3 linked regions of the Homo sapiens genome follow. The protein of the gene in region 1 interacts with the protein of each later gene in a pairwise test. Each region holds a gene or a part of one and is shown in the gene's direction. Other genes may lie near its edges.

Region 1 (7,026 bases):
GTAATGCCTACTTTGTGGGATTGTAAGGATTCCATGAGACCATTAACACATAGAAAGTGCTCAGTACTAGGGTGGAGCATAGTGGCTCACACCTGTAATCCCAGCAGTTTGGGAGGCCAAGGCGGGAGGATCACTAGACGTCAGGAGTTCGAGACCAGCTGGCCAACATGGTGAAACCCCATCTCTACTAAAAATACAAAAATTAGTGCAGCATGGTGGCGCATGCCTGTAGTCCTAGCTACTTGGGAGGCTGAGGCACGAGAATTGCTTGAACCCGGGAGCAGGAGGTTGCAATGAGCCGAGATCACATGACTGCACTCCAGCCTGGGTGACAGAGCGAGACTCCATCTCAAAAAGAAAAAGAAAAAAAAAAGTGCTCAGTACAGCATCTGGTGTGGGTAGGAATGCAGGAAATGATCATTGTCACCATCACTACTATTTCCTCCTTTGTGTTGGACTCTCAAAGGTCCCACCTCCTCCAGTGCTAGGGTGGGGAGTGAGTGCGACCCTGTCTCTTCTGCCTGTAGCCATCAGGACGGGGAAAGCCTCTCAGCCTGTCTCCTGGGGCGGGGGTGGGGGCTCACTCCTGGGAACTTGAGTCTAGCACCAGCTTTTCCCCGGGGAGTCTGTGAGCAGCCACTTAGCCTTTCTCAGCTGACTGCCATTTTCCAGGATTCATTGATTCATTCAAAAGACGTTTATTCCATCCCAGCCCTTGTGCTTAGCAAGGGATTTCAAGATGAATGAGGCAGCTCTCAGAGTTCTCCCTCTATGGGGAGAGGCAGGCCTGGAGACAGATAATGAGGACACTGTGGGATAAAGGCTGCAACAGCAAGAAGAGAGAGTGACGAGCAGATCCACATGGCTCAGGCTGACCCAGGTCTGAATCTTGAAGCTGCCACCTTGTAGCTGGGTGAGGATGGACAGAGGCCTTACCTCTCAAGCAGATAAGCCACCTCCCTAAGATGATGATGTGAGGAGAGAAGTGAGACACTGTGGATAAAAAACCTAGCTTGGACCAGGTGCGGTGGCTCATGCCTGTAATCCCAGCAATTTGGGAGGCAGAGGTGGGCAGACTGATTGACTCCAGGAGTTCGAGACTAGCCTGGGCAATATGGCAAAACCCCGTCTCTACAAAAAATACAAAAAATTAGCCAGGCATGGTGGTGTGCACCTGTAGTCCCAGCTACTTGGAAGGCTGAGGTGGGAGAATCACCTGAACGGGGGAAGTGGAGGCTCCTGTGAGCCATGATTGCGTGCACCTCTGCACTCTAGCCTGGGCAACAGAGTAAGACCTTGTTTCGAAAAAAAAAAAAAAAAAAAAACAAAACCAAAAAACTTAAAAACCCAGCTTGGGCTTTCTAGATATTAATAAGTGCTCACAGATGTTCGTTGCTATTATTAGTCTATTATTGCCAATAACAGGTGGGCAAAAGTTGCTGTGGGAGCATGTTGAGCCCTTCAGTGACAGTTTTCCAGGTGGTAGGGCAGCCCTAGCCGGGAGAACAGCATGTGCAGAGGCACCGAGGCTTAAAAGTGCTGGATGTTTTTGGAGAGCAGTGGGAGGAGTTGCTGATGGAGCAGAGTCATGAGAAAGTTTGATGGAGGCAGAAGCAAGGCCAGGGAGGTAGCAGAGGCTATCCTGCCGGGAGCCCCGAAGGATTAAACACTCACTGACCCGAGGCAGTCCCTCTGCACCTTCCTTGGAGGGTGGTTCTCTAGTGAGGGTTGTCCAGGAAACTTCAGGATTAACTTTTGCATGGGAGGAAGGGCTGGTCTCTGCTCAACTATCCATACATTCACCATCCTTCCCTCTTCATTCCACCCAGGAAGCACGAAGAAGAAGAGGTCCACTCCCTCTTCCTGAGATGCTTTTCCCACCTCTGCACTTGTTTCTCTCTTCCTGGGACTCAGTTTCTCACCTGAGAGAAGAGGGTAGAAGTGGAGGAAGCGTCATGACCTGACTCACTGATTGATCATGATATAGCACCAAGTGCATTTCTGGATGCTGGTCACTGTCAAAGGTCTTTACTTGCATCGCCATTGAATTCTCATACCAATCCGTTGAAATGAATGCACTTATCCCCCACTGCACAGAGGGAGAAACCGAGGCACAGAGGGTGAGGCAATTTGCTAAAGGGCATGCAGCTTGTAAGTGACAGGAACTCACGTCTTGGGGGGCATCTCAAAGTTGCCATGTGCTATCCTTCACCACCTTCTTCACACACTTTGTAAATCTAAGGCTGACTGCAGAATATCTGGCCTCTTTTGCTTTGTGTACCTTTGGGCGCTGGGCAGTAGGCATTTTGGAGATGGGTCACAGTGGGGTGTGCTCTGGGTATGTAACCTGACTTTGGGGAAATTCCTGGGTGCAGACGCTTTGTGGGGAGGTGTTCTTGGATGTCTCAGAATCTAGAATGGCATTCCTTCGCCCACAGATGTGCCTTGATGCAGGCAATGTGCAGCTTGATTGATGTGGCAAGATGGTGGCTGAGCCCCACGGTGGCCCCAGGAAGGAATGAATGAATCTTTTAGGATGGCTGATCAGAGCATCACATGACCACAGACCCTCCCTGTTTCAGAGGACATCCAAACACAGGCTTACATTTCCTTTTACATGGGGGCAAAGTTTGGGGCCAGGGTTCAAATGCTGGCTCTGCCTCCACTGGCTTTGGGGCCTAGGGAAATTTTTTCACTTCCTTGAACCTTAATTTCTTCATCTGGAAATAAAGATGAAGAAATAAGTTGCTAATTTTAGCATCTTCAATAAGTTGCTAAATAGTAACTCACAAACACAATTCTGAATTGTCATAAGGATTTGTAATCATATGGAAAATGCTTGGCTTCCAAGCTGTAGATAATATTGATGTAATATCCAGCAGATTTTTCTCTGCAGTACTTATAATTGTGATTATATGGTTATATGTGAGCATTACTCTTTTAGTCTTCTGTTTCATCCACTAGACCTGTGGTTCTCAACTTGGGGCAGTTTGACCCTCCCCAGGGGATATTTGGCAATGTCTAAAGACGTTTTTGGTTGTTACAACTTTTCGGGGGATAGTGGGGGAGAGGAGCTACTGACATCCAGTGAGTAGACACCAGGGGTGCTGCTAAATATCCTGTGGTGCACAGGAGAGCACCCCCACAACAGAAAATGATCTGATCCCAAATATCAATAGTGCTGAGGTTAAGAAAGACTACACTGGACGATGAGCCCCATAAGGTCCGTGACTGTGTCCAATTCATTCAGCTGTGTGTCTCCAGTTGGCCAGCGTGATCAGCATGATGTCCAGCACACAGGAGACAATCAATATGCATTAAAGGAATGAATGAGGACTTGGAAGGCCTTATGTCCCCTGGAGTCCCAGGGGTTTAGCTTGTGGAACATTTTGAATAGGCAGAAGAGATTTAGATGAACTTGAATGATGAACAGCCAATTAGTAACTCAGGCCAAAGACATTCAGACCGAGCTCTCTGTTTTCCTTCCCAAGCAGGTGCTTGGGGGCCCAGATTATCTGAATTGTTCCTGCCATCACCACTGCATTTTACCCATGTAGATACAGGACCCGTCTTTATCTGGAAAGTAGGCTGGGGCAGAGGAGCATAGGTGCTGTCAGCTGGGCCCTTGGGATTTGCCAAGCTGGGGCACAGCTGCTTGTCAGCTTCCTGTTTTGTCCCTTTCTAGTGGAATGAAGGAAACCCACTGAATGGCTATTTTCCACTGACATTTACAGCAATGTGATAGGCCTTGGATTAATGAGGTCAAACTGCAGTGTGAAATCTGCCTGATAACTTGAAGCTTGGCCAACGGGAAGACATCGCTTGTTTTCTTTGGACCGTTTGATGTCCCTGGATGGCTTTAGGCAGGAAAGCAGGGGTCTCAATTCTGTACGAAAGAGGAGGGTGTTTTACTTCCTGGAATTATAGAGGCCAGAGGTGTCTCTTTTTCAATTTATTGGGAAGGTTTATTTTAATATGGACTTAGAAATAAATAACTTATTAAAGTGAAGGTTCACCTGGAGCCTTAGGCTGGCTGCTAAGTGTGAGTCTGGGCTGTTGAAGGGACTGTGCTGTTCTTCTGGGTCTCTGTAGGAGTTTGAAGGAGAAGACTGGCCCCAAAGGGTGTTTGAACAGGTTAGATGTGCCCATTGGTTAGAACTTACTTGGATAGGGAGAAGGGATCTAGGGCGTATCCACAAACTTGCATATGGATCCCCTTTGGTTTCCTGCTAAAATGCAGAAACTGACTCAGTAGGGCTGGGTATGGAGTTTTCTGCATTTCTACCAAGCTCCCAGGGGGTGTCAAGCTGCTAGTCTGTGAACTGCACTTTGAGAAGCAAGGGTATGGGAGACCCCAAGTCTACAGGTGAGGGTTCCCTGGTGCAAACCGCTTAAGCATGAAAGCAAATGCAGCCTGTTGTGCCTGTTCACACAGCCATCTGCTGTGCTGGCTGGCTTGCGGAGTCACAGATGTTCACTGTGCCCCTTCTCTGTGTGCCCAGGCCTGGGACCAGACTTGACAAAGAGGATGCTTGGTCTCAAGGAGCAACTCAGACAGCCAGAATGTCAGCTAGAATGATGAGCTTTGAGTACTTTCAAAAACATGTATCCAGGTACATGGTGTTCCTGGGTCATCTGGTCACCTGGGACTTGTGAGAAGTACAGATGCCTGGGCCTTAGCCCAGTCCACCTGTGTTAGAATCAGCCAATATAGGGCCCTGAAAGTCTGTATTTTCTCAAAGTGTGCCAGGTGATTCTGATTCACAGCCAGACTGATGGAAGGGAAGGTGGGAGGAAGAACTGCCAGTACATGCAGGTTAATTGCTCAGCAGGACCTATGTAAGGTTGTAGAGTTGTGTATTGCTGATGGGCACAGTGGCACTCGGCTAAAGGAGAGGCTGAAATCTAGCCTGTGGATCCACTTGCCAAGCTCTGCACCCTGCAGGGTTGCATCTGCTTAGAGGGACGGGCACCTTTTTCTTAATATTCATCATAATCACTTGGTACTTATTATGAGCCAGGTGCTGTCTACTTAACTCCTTTAGTCCTCCTAACAACTCTAAGGGGTGACATCATCATCATCATCATTATTATTATTATTATTATTATTATTATTATTATTATTATTATTTTGAGACACAGTCTCACTCTGTCGTCCAGGCTGGAGGGCAGTGGTGCCATCTCGGCTCACGGCAACTTCTGCTTCCCGGGTTCAAGTGATTCTCCTGCCTCAGCCTCCTGAGTAGCTGAGATTACAGGCACCCGCCACCACTCCTGGCTACATTTTGTATTTTTAGTAGAGAAGGGGTTTCACCATGTTGGCCAGGCTGGTCTCAAACTCCTGACCTCAAGTGATCCACCCGGCTCGGCCTCCCAGGGTGTTGGGATTACAGGCATGAGCCACTGTGTCTGGCCAGGTGTGACTTTAGTGCTACTCTGATTTTACTGTTCAGGAAAGTGAAGCAGAGAGGTTCAATGTCTTACTCAAGGTCACACAGCCAGTAAATGGAAAAGTCAGGATTCCATTTCAGGACATCCGGCTTCAAAGTCCTTGTACTGAATCATTACACTCTCTGGCCCTTTCTTTGCATAAAAATGCTGTCTTCTCTTTATGGGGCTATCCCTACTCTGAGGGAGTACCTTTTTTCTTGTCCTTCCTTCAGAGGGGGGAAGGCTAGCAATGACCTTGGCTGGCTTTAGAGTCAGGTACGGGTTTGATTCCTACCTCCAGCACCTACTGCAACCTTGAGTAAGTTACATGTGTGTATTTGCTGAGCCACAATTTCCCCATATGTAAAACAGGAATAATAATAGTATAATATAAATTGATATGATTAGGCATTTAGCCTCTGCTTGGCAGGTAGGAGGTACCTGATACATGCCAACTATTCTTATGGCATTATTATCATTAGAGTTAGTCCCTAGGAGTATTCAGGAGCTAGGGAAATAGGTGAGCAAAGCACTGTGTCATTATGTCCCCAGGAGCTGGGTCATTCATTTTGTTCACTAGGTTACTTATGGCCATTACTTACCTGGGCATCCCTAGTCTCCTCCGCTTCTTGGCCCCAGAGTCTGTGCCAGCCTGGAGAGTTCTCAGAATGTCTTAGTTCAGACTCTTAGTCAGAACTGCCTTTGTTTCCTCACATCCAAGAACAAGTAAAACATACAAATTTTGACACTTATTCTCTTTAGGTCTCTTGACTCTTTTTGGTGACTTTCTCTGTCTCCTGTTTTCTTTCTGGAACTATTGCTGTCGTTGGCTATCCCATGGACTGGATAGAGAGGAAATGTTGCCTTATAAACATTGCCAATTACCTTATAAAAATATAGGGAAGATTTTCACCAAAATGTCATTCATTTTTTTTCTTTTATATATAAACTTAAGCTTTTGTTTTCCTATGGCTGTATGTCATGCTTTTTAATTACACAAAGTATATAAGTGTATCATAAGTAAACTTTCCCCATCTTCTCAGCCACTCATCCCTTTTCCCCGGAATAAATCTATAAATGTTTTATGTATTTTTCCATAAATTTCATATGCATATATAAACCCATATTCATTTACATGTTTATCCATTTTTCTTTTTAACACAACTATACAAAACTCTCCTGAGATCTTCTTTTTCAGCTAATTTATCTGAGCACATGCCAACACACAGATATACCTGGATCTTTAAGGCTATCTGATAGTCCAGTGATAAAAATGTACCATCATTTGTTTTCTAGTTTCTTGATGATGGCTAAGATAGTTTCCAGTTTTTTTCCTCCTACAAATGTATAATGTTGCAACATCCTTGTTTGAACAGTGTATATATCTTTGTATACTCTACATACTGATGATTTTATTCATAAGGAAAATTCCTGGCAGTTTCAACTGTGATAGACATTGCTAACCTGTTCTCCAAAGAGGCTGAACCAATTTCTGTTTCCTCAACAGTGTATGACTGTTTCCCCCATCTATTCTCCAGCACTGAGGATTAAGTAACTTTCATTTTTGTCAGTCTGACAGATATAAAGCAGAACATT
Region 2 (7,026 bases), on another chromosome or scaffold:
TAAAGACAGAGTAGACAAACAGAAACTGTACATGAAAGGAATAGCATGAAGTTGTCGATTTTTAACAAGTATTATAAATAATGAAACGGTCTTTTCACTTTCAGATGAGAATTTTCCCTTTTTTTTTTGGTTCACTAGATAGTAGTTATCCTAATTCAGAAGTTCAACTAATGTAAATATCCATTGATTGAGAAATTTTGTATTTTTGTTGTTTTCAGTTACTTGTTGTAGTTTTCTTTTTGGTGAGTCTTATGATTGGCTTTATTGTAATAGAATGGAACACAAACTTTGAAAAAAAAAAAAAAAGGTCTTGCATTTTTGTCTAGACTATGCAGCTACCCAGTGGATCGCTGCTGAATGGAACAGGAAAGTGACAGATCCTTGGGCCTAATGTATCACTGTGTTGTGGAACTGGTCATTCATTAGAAGAGGTCCCTGTGTATCCTTTCTATCAGGTCCTTCTCATATAAATCTTGCTGCCTTTGTTGCATCTGTTAGACAAATCAGTTCGTTGCATTGAGGACACTTGAATATTTTACAGTTTTTTTTTTTTTTTTGGCAAATCTTGAAGCTTGTGACTATCTGAAACTCTTTTAATACCTTTTGAAGGATCAGAGCCCTGCGTACCCCAGGAATGCACACCGTTTTTTTGAAAGTGTGCTCTTTCCTTTTGTTCCTAATCAGTAATTATAGCCCCCTAATGGTACCTCTGGAGCAGATGCAGAAGTCAAAGATGCAGAAGGAGGAATTAGCTAGTCAGACACAGGCTCGCAGCAGTGGTGGGGCTGAACACAATAGCACAGGGACTAATGCAGTTGCTGCTGGAAGCAGTTTATTCCTATCACCAACCCTCTCCATTCCTTGTATGTATTTCCATTAAATCCATAAATGGGGTGCTCCTCCTCCTTTAAACCATTTATGTTAAAAGAAGCTTCTGGGCCAGCAGGGCTGTTTGAATTTTGTAGAATGGTGAGAAGGCCAAAAGAAAAAGACTGAAATTGACACACTGTCCCTCTTAGTGCCTCTGCAGGGACTGAACTCAGTGGCTATTATGTAGCTACAACATAGGCACACTTTCATAAGTATTGTCTGTGTTTCTCTAGTCTGGGTGTTTTCCTTGCGTATTAGTTCTGAGTGCTAAACAACAACAAAAGGTGTCTTTGAAAAGATAAGGTGGCAAACATTGTTTAACATACCTCCTTGAGAAAAGTTTCAATATTTTCCCCAAGAATGATGTCAGAGTTAGGCTTTGCTAGTGCTGCACTACGTGTGGCTGGTAAAAAAATTGTTAGTGGAACTCTACTTCTGTAAGTGTTGTTCTTGTTTGTCCCTTGCAGTGATTTTATTAGATGGTGGGAAAGTGTTTGTATTAACCCTTCAGCATCACTGAACTTGGGGTATCCCATTTCTGTATTTATGTTACACTTCCTTTGATTGAACCATTATTTTCTAATTATTTTTAATCAAGAAGCATTAAAATAAGGATGAAAGTAAATAGATTAAGGATTACCAGTTTCCTAAATGGAACCTGACTAAATGTAAAATTAAGTCAACACACCCACACAGAGAATTCCACGAAGCTAAGTAGCTTTTGAATACACAACTCTGTATATGCTAGTGCAGTGGTCAAAGTGTGAGATGGAGGACCTGAGACCCTTTCACGGGTCCATGAGGGCGAATGTAATGTCATAATAATACTAAGATTATTTGCCCTTTTTGCTGTGTTGATATTTGCACTGATTGTGCAAAAGCCAAAGTGGAGAAAACTGCTGATCTTTAGCATGAATCCAGGTGGTAGCAACAAACTGTATTAGTAGTCATTGCATTCACCTCCATGCACTCAATTTAAAAAGAAAATGTCAGTTTCACATAAGAATGTTCTGATGAAACAGTAAAAATTATTAAGTCTCAACTGTTAAGGACATCTTTTTAATATACTGCATGATGAAATGGGAAGTACATGTGAAACATTTTTGCATAACCATGTACAATGATCATCTGGTTAGCTGAAGGAAAAGATCCTGTGTATAGTGAGACTATGTTCCAGGGCTAGAAAGAACTGCAAAGAAATCTTGAACTGCACTGTTTGTTGTTGGTAGTATATTGGTGGCGTCAGTTTGGCGCTATTTTGTGTTTATTGTAGATAGAGCACCACATGGATAAGTATATTAAAAATTTTGGGAATCGAGGGTTTTCCTTGTGGTGGAACGGCGATGCTAATGTGAGATGAGGGAGAGATGAGGGAGCAGAGGAAGAAGCCTCCGTGTTGGATTTGAATTCAGGGTGTCACCATGAACTTGTGATTTACCTATTTAAAATATCCTTGCTCTGTCCAAAGAGCCTACAAGCAGTGATACTTAATTAACCGAGATGCATTGTGTTCTCCGAGCTTGGTTTTTAAATGCCATTTCCCAGTGAAAGGTTTCAGGGCTCCTTGGAGAAATGGCTGATTTGAGGTCTGGGACAGGAAACATACAAGGTTAGCTTGCCATGCTTGTGTCAGAAAGCAAGGAGGTGTTGAAAGACCCTTAGTGCCATGTCAGAAAGACAGAGGATGACTTTCCAAGAAGCTCCCAATGGCCAAATTTGGGACAGTCAGCATTATGAGAGTATGGATTATAACACATTTAATAATAATTTTTAGAAATCCATGGATATACATGGTAGAAGAAAAGGGGGAGAGTGAGAGAAAGACTATATTATACAAGAATGCCAGCTACTTTGTGAAGGAGAGAGAAAATCTGAAAATTTCTCTTTTGCAGTCCCTAATGTAATAATTCATTCAAGGGTGCCCTGGCTCATGCCTGTAATCCCAGCACTTTGGGAGGCTGAGGTGAGAGGATCACTTGAGGCAAGGAATTTGAGACCAGCCTGGGTAACATAGACCCTGTCTTTATTAAAATAAAAAATATAAAAAAAAAGAATTGTCAATGGACGCTGAAACTGTTGAGCAAGATGTTATCAGGGAGGCTATTCACAGAATCTCAAGTCTCACTCTGCATATTCCTTATTAGTGACAAAGGAGAAAGGGTGTTTTTTGTTGTTGTTATTGTTTTTTGTTTTGTTTTGTTTTAAAAGCGAAGAACAAATCAGGCTGATTCCACCTTAACTTATTGACCAAACAGCAACATCACTAAAAAAAGAGACAGCCAGACCTTATGTGCTTTCCAAAGGAAGAACATAGCACTTCCTAAAAAGTAGTCTTGGCAAAAGCAAGCCAACTAGAAGTAAAGCCTCCGGATTCAACTCCCAAATTGTAAACCCAAATGAGTCTGTTAAACACCACCTTGGGGATGCAAAAAAAATAAAACTTCAGACTTGGACAGACTCCACAGTCAAGTGACCCAGCTTCTTCAAAAATAAACTGCAAGAGAAAAGAGATAAAGGAGTGATGAGAAGGGATTTAAGAGCCATGTTGATCAGTGTGAACCTTATTTGGATCATGATGCAGATAAACTAAGTTTTTAAAAAATGAGGCAGAAGAACTGTGAATACAGACTGCACATTTGATGATGATACAGAGTGACATGATACTATGTCTACAGTTGCCTCACAATAATTTAGAAGAAGGGGAGTTGGGTCGGGATCCAGGGGAAGCACAGTTAGCCTTGGGCAGATAATTACGGGGAGGATCAATGTGTGCTCATTACAATATCTTCCCATCTACTTTTGAAATATCTTTGAAAGTTTTTATAATGAAAAATTTTTTAAAAATTACTAATTAATAGTGGGATAACTTGACATTTTGTGCCCCCTTATGCAATGCATTGAGGAGTACATGTCACCTATGTAGAATGGTGACAAAAATACATAACCTGAATCTAATCATGAGGAAACACTCAGATAAGCTCAGAATACATGACATTCTACAAGGCAGTTGTCATGGTCTATCTAAAAAGAAAGTCAGTGTTGTGAAAAACAACAAAAAACAGTGTCATAAAAATCAAATAGAACAGTTGCAGATATTAAAATATAGAGTTACAGTAAATCGTACTATTGAATTAATGTTAATTATTTTCGGTACAATTATGGTTTTGTGGTTCTATGGGAGAATGTCCTTATCCGTGGGAGATATGTGCTGAATTATATTCGGGCCAATCAATACAATGTTTGCAAATTACTTTAATCAATGTGTGGGAATATATGGATTAGGTTGGCTCATATTAAATTGCTATTTTCCTAAGTTAAAAACAGCCAAATATCAGCAAATGCCCATGGTTCAACCTAATATTTGTTGAAACAGAGAAAGAAAGCAAATGCAGTGACCAATAATGGGTCTAGATAAAGAATCAACAGGTGTTTGTACTATTTTTTCACATTTCTGTGTGTTTGAACTTTTTTAAAACAAAGAATTGGGAGAAAATAGTCAACTTACAAAAATGAACTCCAGCAGATACATATTTGTGGATTAAGTGTGCTGACATTGTTCTCTCTGGGATCAATTATCCCCTAATAGCATTTGAATTCTGTTAGAATTAATCCCCAGCTACTTAAGTTGACTTACAATATAGAAAAGAAGAAAAGCTACTTATTTCATTGTATGAACTTTCTACTTTCTGAATCAGCCTATGACAAAGAAGAGAAAAATAAATAGTGTAGGTGAACATTAAGAAAAGTGCTTAATGATATTTTATGGCATCTTTTTTATGTAGATGACATTTAAAGATGCATCCACTGTAGGAGAAAAAAGAGATCATTGGTTCTTAGAAACAATTTTTCTTTTTGTCAAGAGATCAAACATGTCTTCTCTCTGGCCTGGTTTTAACATTCTCTGTAAAATAGGGTGTATATCTAGAATTTTAAGTTTTATCTCCCCCACCCACCCCACACCTTATTTTGCCATGAGTTCTTAGCTGAAGAGTGTTTTGCTGAGGGTTACTGGGGACTTCTGGGCAACCGTGGCAGTTGGATGAAGTGATGAGATCTCTCCTCCCCTCCAGAAAATGTCCCTAAGTGATTAGCAAGAACCCCTGGTTTAATCCTGCCTCTTTTGAATCCAAAACAGATCCCTAAAGAAGTGGCTGACATCTTTAACGCCCCCAGTGATGATGAAGAGTTTGTTGGCTTCCGAGATGATGTTCCCATGGAAACCCTCTCGTCAGAGGAGAGCTGCGATAGTTTTGACTCACTAGAGTCAGGGAAACAGGTATGGATGATTCCTTCCAAGCAGATGTGTTCATCTGGAGGCCTGAATCTTGGTTTGGATGTTCTTTTATTTGAACATGGTGTGAGATTGGTGATATCAGTTCATTGTCTAGCATTTTATTTTAGAAACATTATGTCTGTGTCTTCCTGTTTTAAAAAACTGGTGAGAGAACCTCGTTCACTTTGCTGTGTTAATCCTTCCCTGTACCATAATTCTTTTTTTTTTTTTTTTTTTTTTTTAAATAAAGGGACCTCACATGATCAAGTGCATTTTCTTGGCTGCCTTGGGGCTGTAACCTGTGGCGAGGCTGTGTTCAGGGTCTTCCCACAGAGGCGAGGCTGCGGCGAGGCATGAGGGATTGTGTGGTTACGGGGAGACAATTACACCTCTGTGGTCCCGTGGTGCAATTCTGTTGGCATGTCCTCTTGGAATTGCTGGGGAGAGCCTTATTCTTGCGTTAATTACTTTGATCTCTAGCACTCACAAGTTAGAGTTCTCTGACAGGTAGATTCCTGGAGGTTCACATTGTGTCCTAGTAGTAGAATGGCCAAAATCTCTACCCTTCAGTGGCATTTTCTTCTGAGTTAATTGTGGCACTCAAAATTCCTCATTCTGCCTTGACCATGGCCTCTCCAAAAAGGCAGCAAATTAAACCCACTTTGCTTCCACTGGGCAAGTCCAGGAAGGGAAGCAGTTAATTATATGTAAGTGAAGTGCCTGCTTAATTACGTGGGCCACTGTAAGTTCTGGCCTGGTGGGAGCTGTGCTTTCTGAGATCTCTGGAGGCTCCCTGGTCTCTGTCGTCCTCATCTCATTTGGCATCTCCACAGCAGTTGACCCCACCAGTAGACCTCCTTCTAACCACCTGGGTTTCTTCCTCTCTGTTACACCTTTTGCTCTTTGTTATTATTATTTTCTTTCTTTCCAAGATGGAGTATCATTGTGTCACCCAGGCTGGAGTGCAGTGGCATGATCTTGGCTCACTGCAACTTCTGCCTCCCGGGTTCAAGCAATTTTCCCAGCCTCAGCCTCCCGAGTAGCTGGGATTACAGGCTCCCACCACCACGCCTGGCTAATTTGTGTGTGTGTGTGTGTTTTTTTTTTTTTTTTTTTTTTTTAGTAGTGATGGGGTTTTGCCATATTGGCCAGGCTGGTCTCAAACTCCCGACCTCAGGTGATCTGCCCGCCTTGGCCTCCGAAAGTGCTGGAATTAGAGGCGTGAGCCACTGTACCTGGCCTGCTTTTTGTTACTGTCACTTGTTTTCCCTGTTCGTGTCCCTAAATGCAGATGTTCTCTAAGGGTTTGTCTTCAGTCTTCTCACTTAGTGAATCTTGTCTGTTGTCCTGCTTTGAGCTGTTACTGTATTCTTTTGTGGAGCTTGTCTTCTCTCTCCAGCCCCAGGTGGTTTCTGACTACCAGTTGGACTGGTCCTGGTTGCTAAGGGAGATCTGAAACTCACTTCTCCTTCCCTTGGTTGTCTTTCTGGCTTCCCCCTTTCCCCATCTTGATTTCCATCTTTTGTTCTTGGCCTTCCCTCCCCTCTTCCATCTCCTTGACTCCCGTCCAGGAGTTGATGAAACTTCTGCTGTGTTCCTGGTGTCCATCCTTCCCTTCCCTCTGCAGCTGCCGTAGCCCTCGTAGCTCTTACCCGAATGCTCATCCCTTCCTACTAGGATCTGTTATAGGATTGACCTCCGGTCAGCTCCTCCCTTAGCCCTCCATCTGAGCACAGTCAGGCGGTGGGGAGAGCAGAGCCTGTTGGATCCACCTTGAGGAGCATTTGAGCAAGGCAGAACATGTCTAAAGGGCCGAGCACAGAGCCTGGCAGGCACCGGGCATTAAGAAACAGAACAGCTGCTTCTGCTGCTATGATGACTCC
Region 3 (7,026 bases), on another chromosome or scaffold:
ACATTCTTTTTTTTTTTTCCTCCCCAGGAGACAGGTCCTCTTTCGATTGATTGATTTTTTTTTTTTTTTTTTGGGATGGAGTCGTGCTCTGTCGCCCAGGTTGGAATGCAGTGGTGCAATCTCAGCTCACTGCAGCCTCCGCCTCCCGAGTTCAAGAGATTTTTGTACCTCAGCCTCCCCAGAAGCTGGGACAACACCATGCCCGGCTAATTTTTGTATTTTTAGTAGACGGGGTTTCACCACGTTGGCCAGGCTGGCCTTGAACTCCTGACCTCAAGTGATCCGCCTGCTTCAGCCTCCCAAAGTGCTGAGCCACTGGCCTGGCCTGTTTTGTTTTGTTTTGAGAGAGGATCTTGCTCTGTTGCCCAGGCTGGAGTGCAGTGGCTGGATCATAGCTCACTGCAGCCTCCAACTCCTGGGCTCAAGCGATCTTCCCACCTCAGCCTCCCAGAGTGCTGGGATTACAGGTACGTGCCACCACGCCCAGCCCTCACTGGAGGCCCTTCTGTCATCAGCTGCCTCAGGTTGCTGCCAAACCCAGGGAAAGATTTCAGTGGATGTTCAATATTATTATTGTTATTATTCTCTGCTGACATCTTGTCTAGGCAGCACTTTATCATTATTATCAGCTGTTTGATCTGGGGCCCACACTTTCCTCCTGCTGAGCCTCCTCTCCCCTATCCGTTAAAAGGGATGATCCTGGCCAGGCACTGTGGCCCACGCCTGTGATTCCAGCACTTAGGGAGGCCGAGGTGGGCGGATCACCTGAGGTCAGAAGTTTGAGACCAGCCTGGCCAACATGGAGAAACCCAATCTCTACTAAAAATACAAAAAAAAAATTAGCCAGGCATGATGGCACATGCCTGTTGTCCCAGGTTGGGAGGCTGAGGCAGAAGAATCGCTTGAATCCGGGAGGTGGAGGTTGCAGTGAGCCAAGATTGCGCCACTGCACTCCAGCATGGGTGACAGAGACTCCGTCTCAAAATAACAACAACAACAAAAACAAAAACCCAGAAAGTGGTGATCGTAAATGTGAGCTTTCTTGGCTTTCCTGGAAGGTTAACTGCTTAGCCAGGCAATCTGACTCAGATTTGACGGCGAAGACAATGAAAGTGTGTGCTTTTGTTCCAGGCCCTGCAAATGGTCCCCAGTGGGGCAGGTTCACCAGTTTCCTTGTCTCCACTCTCTGGAGGTTCATATTTAACATTATTGGTTTTTGGAGAAGTGGGAGAGGACAGAGGGAACCCAGGTTAGGGGGCTGGGGGAATAGGACCTTCAGGAATTACTCTAGCCTTGAAATCCTGGATTCTCCACTGCCAGCCTGTGTGTGATCCCGGGTAAGTCACACTTTCGAGCCTGAAGATGTTCTCTAAACTGTAAGCATCAGGCAAAAGCAGTGTCTCATGCCTGTAATCTCAGCAATTTGGGAGGCTGAGGCAGGAGGATCTGCTCAGGCCAGGAGTTCAAGACCAGCCTGGGCAACATGGCAAGACACCTCTCTCTACACAAAAATTTAAAAAATTAGCTAGGCGTTGTGGCACACCTGTAGTCCCAGCTACTTGGGAGGCTGAGGTGGGAGGATGGCTTGAGCTCAGGAGGTCGAGGCTGCAGTGAGCTATGATTGTGCCACTGCACTCCAGCCTGGGTGACAGAGTGACATGCTGTCCCTAAGACCAAAACCAAAACCAAAATGTAAGCATCATAGTAATACAGTCTCTACCTCCCAAGGTTGTGCTGGGGATTTAATGACTACCTGTATAGAGAAGGCTTGTGTATTAGTTAACTATTGCTGGGTAACACTTATCCTAAAATTGAGCAGCTTCAAACAATAAACATTTCTGATCTCTTATAGTTTCCAAGGGACAGGAATCCAAGAGTGGCTTAACTGGATTATTCCGGCTCAGGGTGTTCCATGTGGTTGTGGTCAGATGTCGGCCAGGACTGAAGTCACTTAATGGCTTGGCTGAGGCTGGGGAACTAACCTCCATGGTAGCTTACTCTCATAGCTGTTGGCAGGAGGCCTCATTTCTTTGCCACATAGACCTCTCCGTGGGATGGCTTGAGCATCCTCACAACATGGCGGCTGGCTTTCCTTAGAGCTAGCCTTGGAAGCCACGCTCTGTCATTTCTGCAATATCCTGTTGGTTACACACGTCAGCCAGCTTGTTAGTAGGGACTACACAGGGCATGAATATCAGGGGGTAAGGATTATTGGGAGTTACCTTGGAGGCAGTTTGATTTTGGGGATTTAATGTAGCTGCTTTTGATTTTATTGTCAGCACTGAGCCTTCTCGTGACATTCCTACCAGGTTTTACTTGTTCTTTCTGCTTTTCTCCATGATCAATCTGCTATGGTCACACAGGGTGCCTTGTTTCTTCTCCAACAAGACCAAGTTGGAGACCCTGTCTTGCTCAGGGTGACGGTGTGAGATTCCAGCCTCCAAGCCTTTGCACCTGCTGTTTTTTTAATTTTTTTTTTTTGCCTGGAAATCTCTATTCCAGATCCACACAAATTCCTAGATGCCTCACCCACCCCAAATGCCTTCACTCTCATAACAACCTGTTTTATTTTCCTGGGAGTTCTTGAAACTTTCTGAAGGCTTTTTTTTTTTTTTTTTTTTTGACAGAGTCTTGCTCTGTTGCCCAGGCTGGAGTGCAGTAGTGCCATCTCAGCTCACTGCAACCTCCGCCTCCCGGGTTCAAGCGATTCTCAAGTAGTTGGGATTACAGGCACCCATCATCATGTCTGGCTAATTTTTGTATTTTAGTAGAGATGGGGTTTCACCATGTTGGCCAGGCTGATCTCAAACTCCTGACCTCAAGTGATCCTCATAACTCAGCCTCCCAAAGTGTTGGGATTACAGGCAAGAGCCCCTGCTCCTGGCCATGGCATCTTTATTAAAAAAAAAAAAAAAAAAAAAAAAAAAAAAAAAAAGGCAGGGCGTGGTGGCTCACGCCTGTAATCCCAGCACTTTGGGAGGCCGAGGCGGGTGGATCACATGAGGTCAGGAGTTCGAGACCAGCCTGGCCAACATGGTGAAACCCCATCTCTACTAAAAATACAAAAATTAGCCAGGTATGGTGGCAGGCCCCTGTAGTCTCAGCTACTTGGGAGGCTGAGGCAGGAGAATCACTTGACCCTGGGAGGCAGAGGCTGCAGTGAGCCGAGATCAAGCCATTGCACTCCAGCCTGGGGGACAAGAGTGAGACTTCATCTCAAAAAAAAAAAATTTTTTTTTCCTTGTTTGTTATTGGTTTCTCTAGGAACGGAACCAAGAAGTTCAATTCTATGAGAACAGAGAAGCTGCGGTCTTATTTCTTCCTATATTCCTAGTTCCTAGAGCAGGGAAGGCATTCAAAAAATATTTACTGAATGAACAGTAGAATCTCAACTTAAAATAAACAGAATCTGTCCCCCTCCTCATGTGAGGGATGAGAAGGAAAGGACAGTGAGAGGAACGGAAGAGTGGGAGCTCACAATAAACACCATCCATTTTTAATTCTTTTTCTTATGTTTCAAATATTTATTGGGGGTGCTGGGGACATGGCAGGAACCGAGATATTACCAGTCCCTGAACTCAGGTAACTGATAGAATTTGAGGGAGAGAGATAGATAAACAAACATATAAATATGTCGTTTAATACAAGCTGTGTCTTGAAGAAAAGGAGGTAGGGAGCGTGTGTGTGTGTGTGTAAAATCCAGTTTAGGGGCGTAGGTTGCTTTCTCTGGGGAAAGTAGCTGAGCTGAGACGTGGAGGAGAAGGGGTTAGCTGGTGAGAGGGGCTTTGGGGTGGGGGAGAGGCGTTCCTAGCCCAGGAAACGGCTTATGCAAATAGCTGTGGAGGGTGAGAGGTTTTCTGAGTCCATCCTAATGAGGGCAATGAGGAACCCTCAGAGGGTTTTCATGTTCTGTTTGCTTTTTTGAAGATTTTATTGTTGTTTTTGCTTTTGACAAGAACACACACACACACACACACACACACACACACACACACACACACACACAATTAAAAAGTAATCCAAACTATAGAGACAAGATATGGCTTTAGCATTCCTTCCCAGAGGCAGTCACTGGTGCCAGTAGCTTGCTTCCTTCCTGGGAATTTTCTACGCATATACAAGTGTATATTCTACACATGAGTAAAATCAATGCCTCATTTTGTTTATTAATTCATAATTATAATACTTATTATTTTTGAGATGGAGTCTCACTCTGCCTCCCAGGCTGGAGTGCACTGGCATAATCTCGGCTCACTGCAACCTCCACCTCCCAGGTTCCAGAGGGTCTCCTGCCTCCGCTTCCCAAGTAGCTGGGATTACAGGCATGCACCACCATGCCTGGCTAATTTTTGTATTTTTATTTTATTGTATTTTTATTTTTAAATTTACTTTATTATTATGACTCTTTTTTTGAGATGGAGTTTCGCTCTTGTTGCCCAGGCTGGAGTGCAATGGCGTGATCTCGGCTCACTGCAACCTCTGCCTCCCGGGTTCAAGTGATTCTCCTGCCTCAGCCTCTGGAGTAGCTGGGATTACAGGCGCCCACCACCACGCCTGCCTAATTTTGTATTTTTAGTAGAGACAGGGTTTTGCCATGTTGGCCAGGCTGGTCTTGAACTCTTGACCTCAGGTGATCCATCTGCCTCGGCCTCCCAAAGTGCTGGCATTACAGGCGTGAGCAACTGCACCTGGCCTATTTATTGTTATTATTGAGACAAGGTCTTCCTCTATTGCCTAGGCTGGTGTGCGGTGGCATGCTCATAGCTCACTGCAGTCTCCAAATCCTGGGCTCCAGTGATCCTCCTGCCTCAGCCTCCTGAGTAGCTGAGACTACAGGTGCGGACCACCATGCCTGACCAATTTTTGTATTTTTTTTTTTGTGGAGACAGCGTTTTGCCATGTTACCCAGGCTGGTCTCGAACTCCTGGGCTCAAGCAATCTGCCCACCTTGACCTCCCAAAGTGCTGAGATTATAGGTGTGAGACACAGCACCTGGCCATCTGCATTGTTTTAAAAATCACAAATGGTTGCGAGGTATACATACTGCCCAGCACCATACTTGTTTCCTTTGAATATATAAATATTATAATTTTATAATATTTATAATATATAATAACACAAATAATAATAAATATATATGGTTTGGTCATATACAATATATAAAATAACATTCACAAACACTTATTGTCAAAGTGCAATTAAATGGGAAAAAAAGAAAAACATTTGGCCAGGTGTGGTGGCTCATGTCTGTAGTCCTAGCACTTTGGGAGGCTGAGGTGGGAAGATCACTTGAGCCCAGGAGTTGGAGGCTGCAGTGAGCTATGGCAACGCCGCTGCACTCCGGCCTGGATGACAGAGGGAGACCTTGTCTCTTAAAAAACCCCAAAAAACAAATCTGATTCTCTGACGCATATATAATAAGCACAGGTCAAAGATTTATTTAAGTCATGAATGAAGGAACCAGCTGTTTCAAAGGAGAATTTGGGCCGGGTGCAGTGGCTCACGCCTGTAATCCCAGCACTTTGGGAGGCTGAGGTGGGTGGATCACGAGGTCAAGAGATTGAGACCATCCTGGCCAACATGGTGAAACCCCGACTCTACTAAAAATACAAAAATTAGCTGGGCGTGGTGGCGGGTGCCTGAGGTCAGGAGTTCGAGACCAGCTTGGCTAACAATGGTGAAACCTTGTCTTTACTAAGAATACAAAAAATTAGCTGGGTGTGGTGGCTCATGCCTGTAATCCCAGCTACTTGGGAAGCTGAGGCAGGAGAATAACTTGAACCCAGGAGGTGGAGTTTGCAGCAAGCCGAGATTGTGCCACTGCACTCCAGCCTGGGCGACAGAACAAGACTCCATTAAAAAAAAAAAAAAGGAGAATTTGATGAACAGAAGTTGATAGGTTTAGTCAGGAAAGACGGGCTGGAGAAAATTTGCCAGGTTAGATACAAAACTGGTTAAAGACCTACAGGACAATACAACTGTAACCTTTGAGGTTACCTTTTCTACCAGAGAGAAATCATTTGCAACCAAACTTCCTGGGGTTACCATTTACCTTGTCGAAGTCTAGACTCTAATCAATAATGAATAACAGACCGGGTGTAGTGGCTGACGCCTGTAATCCCAGCACTTTGGGAAGCCGAGGCAGGCGGATCACGAGGTCAGGAGTTCGAGACCAGCCTGGCCAACATGGTGAAACCCCGTCTCTACTAAAAATACAAAAATTAGCCGGGCATGGTGGCGCATGCCTGTAATCCCAGCTCCTCAGGAGGCTGAGGCAGGAGAATCGCTTGAACCCAGGAGGCAGAAGTTGCAGTGAGCCGAGATCGCGCCACTGCACTTTAGCCTGGGCGACAGAGCAAGACTCTGTCTCAAAAAAAAAAAAAAAAAAAAAGAATAGTAAATCAAATACAGGTACAGTCCCTTAGAATAGGGTCCCCAACCCCCGGTTTGTAGTCTGTTAGGCATGGGGTTGCACAGCTGGTGAGCAAGCATTACTGCCTGAGCCCCGCCTCCTGTCAGATCAGCGGTGGCTCTAGACTCTCACAGGAACGTGAACCCTATTGTGAACTGCACGTGCGAGAGATCTAGGTTGTACACTCCTTATGAAAATCTAAGGCACTGCCCACTCCCATCCATGGAAAAATTATCTTCTACGAAACCAGTTTTTGGTGCCAAAAAGGTTGAGGACTGCTGCCTTGGAATATGAAGCAAACTTTGGGTGGGTCTGTTAGACAAGACTCCCAGATGACTTGGAAATGGCATGCTGTCAGCTTTTTTTGTCTTATTGCCGAGCCTAGAACTTTTTTTAATTTTTATTTTTTTTGAGATGAAGTCTTGCTCTTGTCTCCCAGGCTGGAGTGCAGTGGCACGATCTGGGCTCACTGCAACCTCTGCCTCCCGGGCTCAAGCGATTCTCCTGCCTCAGCCTCCAGAGTAGCTGGGATTACAGGCGCCTGCCACCACGCCCGGATAATTTTTGTATTTTAGTTGAGACGTTTCACCATGTTGGCCAGGCTGGTCTCGAAC

Evidence for each region.
Region 2: the proteins of PPP1R16B (region 1) and CDCA7L interact in binary tests that used the Homo sapiens proteins (3 or more experiments, as listed by UniProt).
Region 3: the proteins of PPP1R16B (region 1) and CRX interact in binary tests that used the Homo sapiens proteins (3 or more experiments, as listed by UniProt).

Annotation. Positions count from the first base shown.
Region 1 is NC_000020.11:38,808,682-38,815,707, forward strand, and holds part of PPP1R16B (protein phosphatase 1 regulatory inhibitor subunit 16B isoform 1 precursor), read left to right. Parts: intron 1-7,026. UniProt on the Homo sapiens protein: Regulator of protein phosphatase 1 (PP1) that acts as a positive regulator of pulmonary endothelial cell (EC) barrier function. Involved in the regulation of the PI3K/AKT signaling pathway, angiogenesis and endothelial cell proliferation.
Region 2 is NC_000007.14:21,914,874-21,921,899, reverse strand, and holds part of CDCA7L (cell division cycle-associated 7-like protein), read left to right. Parts: intron 1-5,005; coding exon 5,006-5,146; intron 5,147-7,026. UniProt on the Homo sapiens protein: Plays a role in transcriptional regulation as a repressor that inhibits monoamine oxidase A (MAOA) activity and gene expression by binding to the promoter.
Region 3 is NC_000019.10:47,824,937-47,831,962, forward strand, and holds part of CRX (cone-rod homeobox protein), read left to right. Parts: intron 1-7,026. UniProt on the Homo sapiens protein: Transcription factor that binds and transactivates the sequence 5'-TAATC[CA]-3' which is found upstream of several photoreceptor-specific genes, including the opsin genes.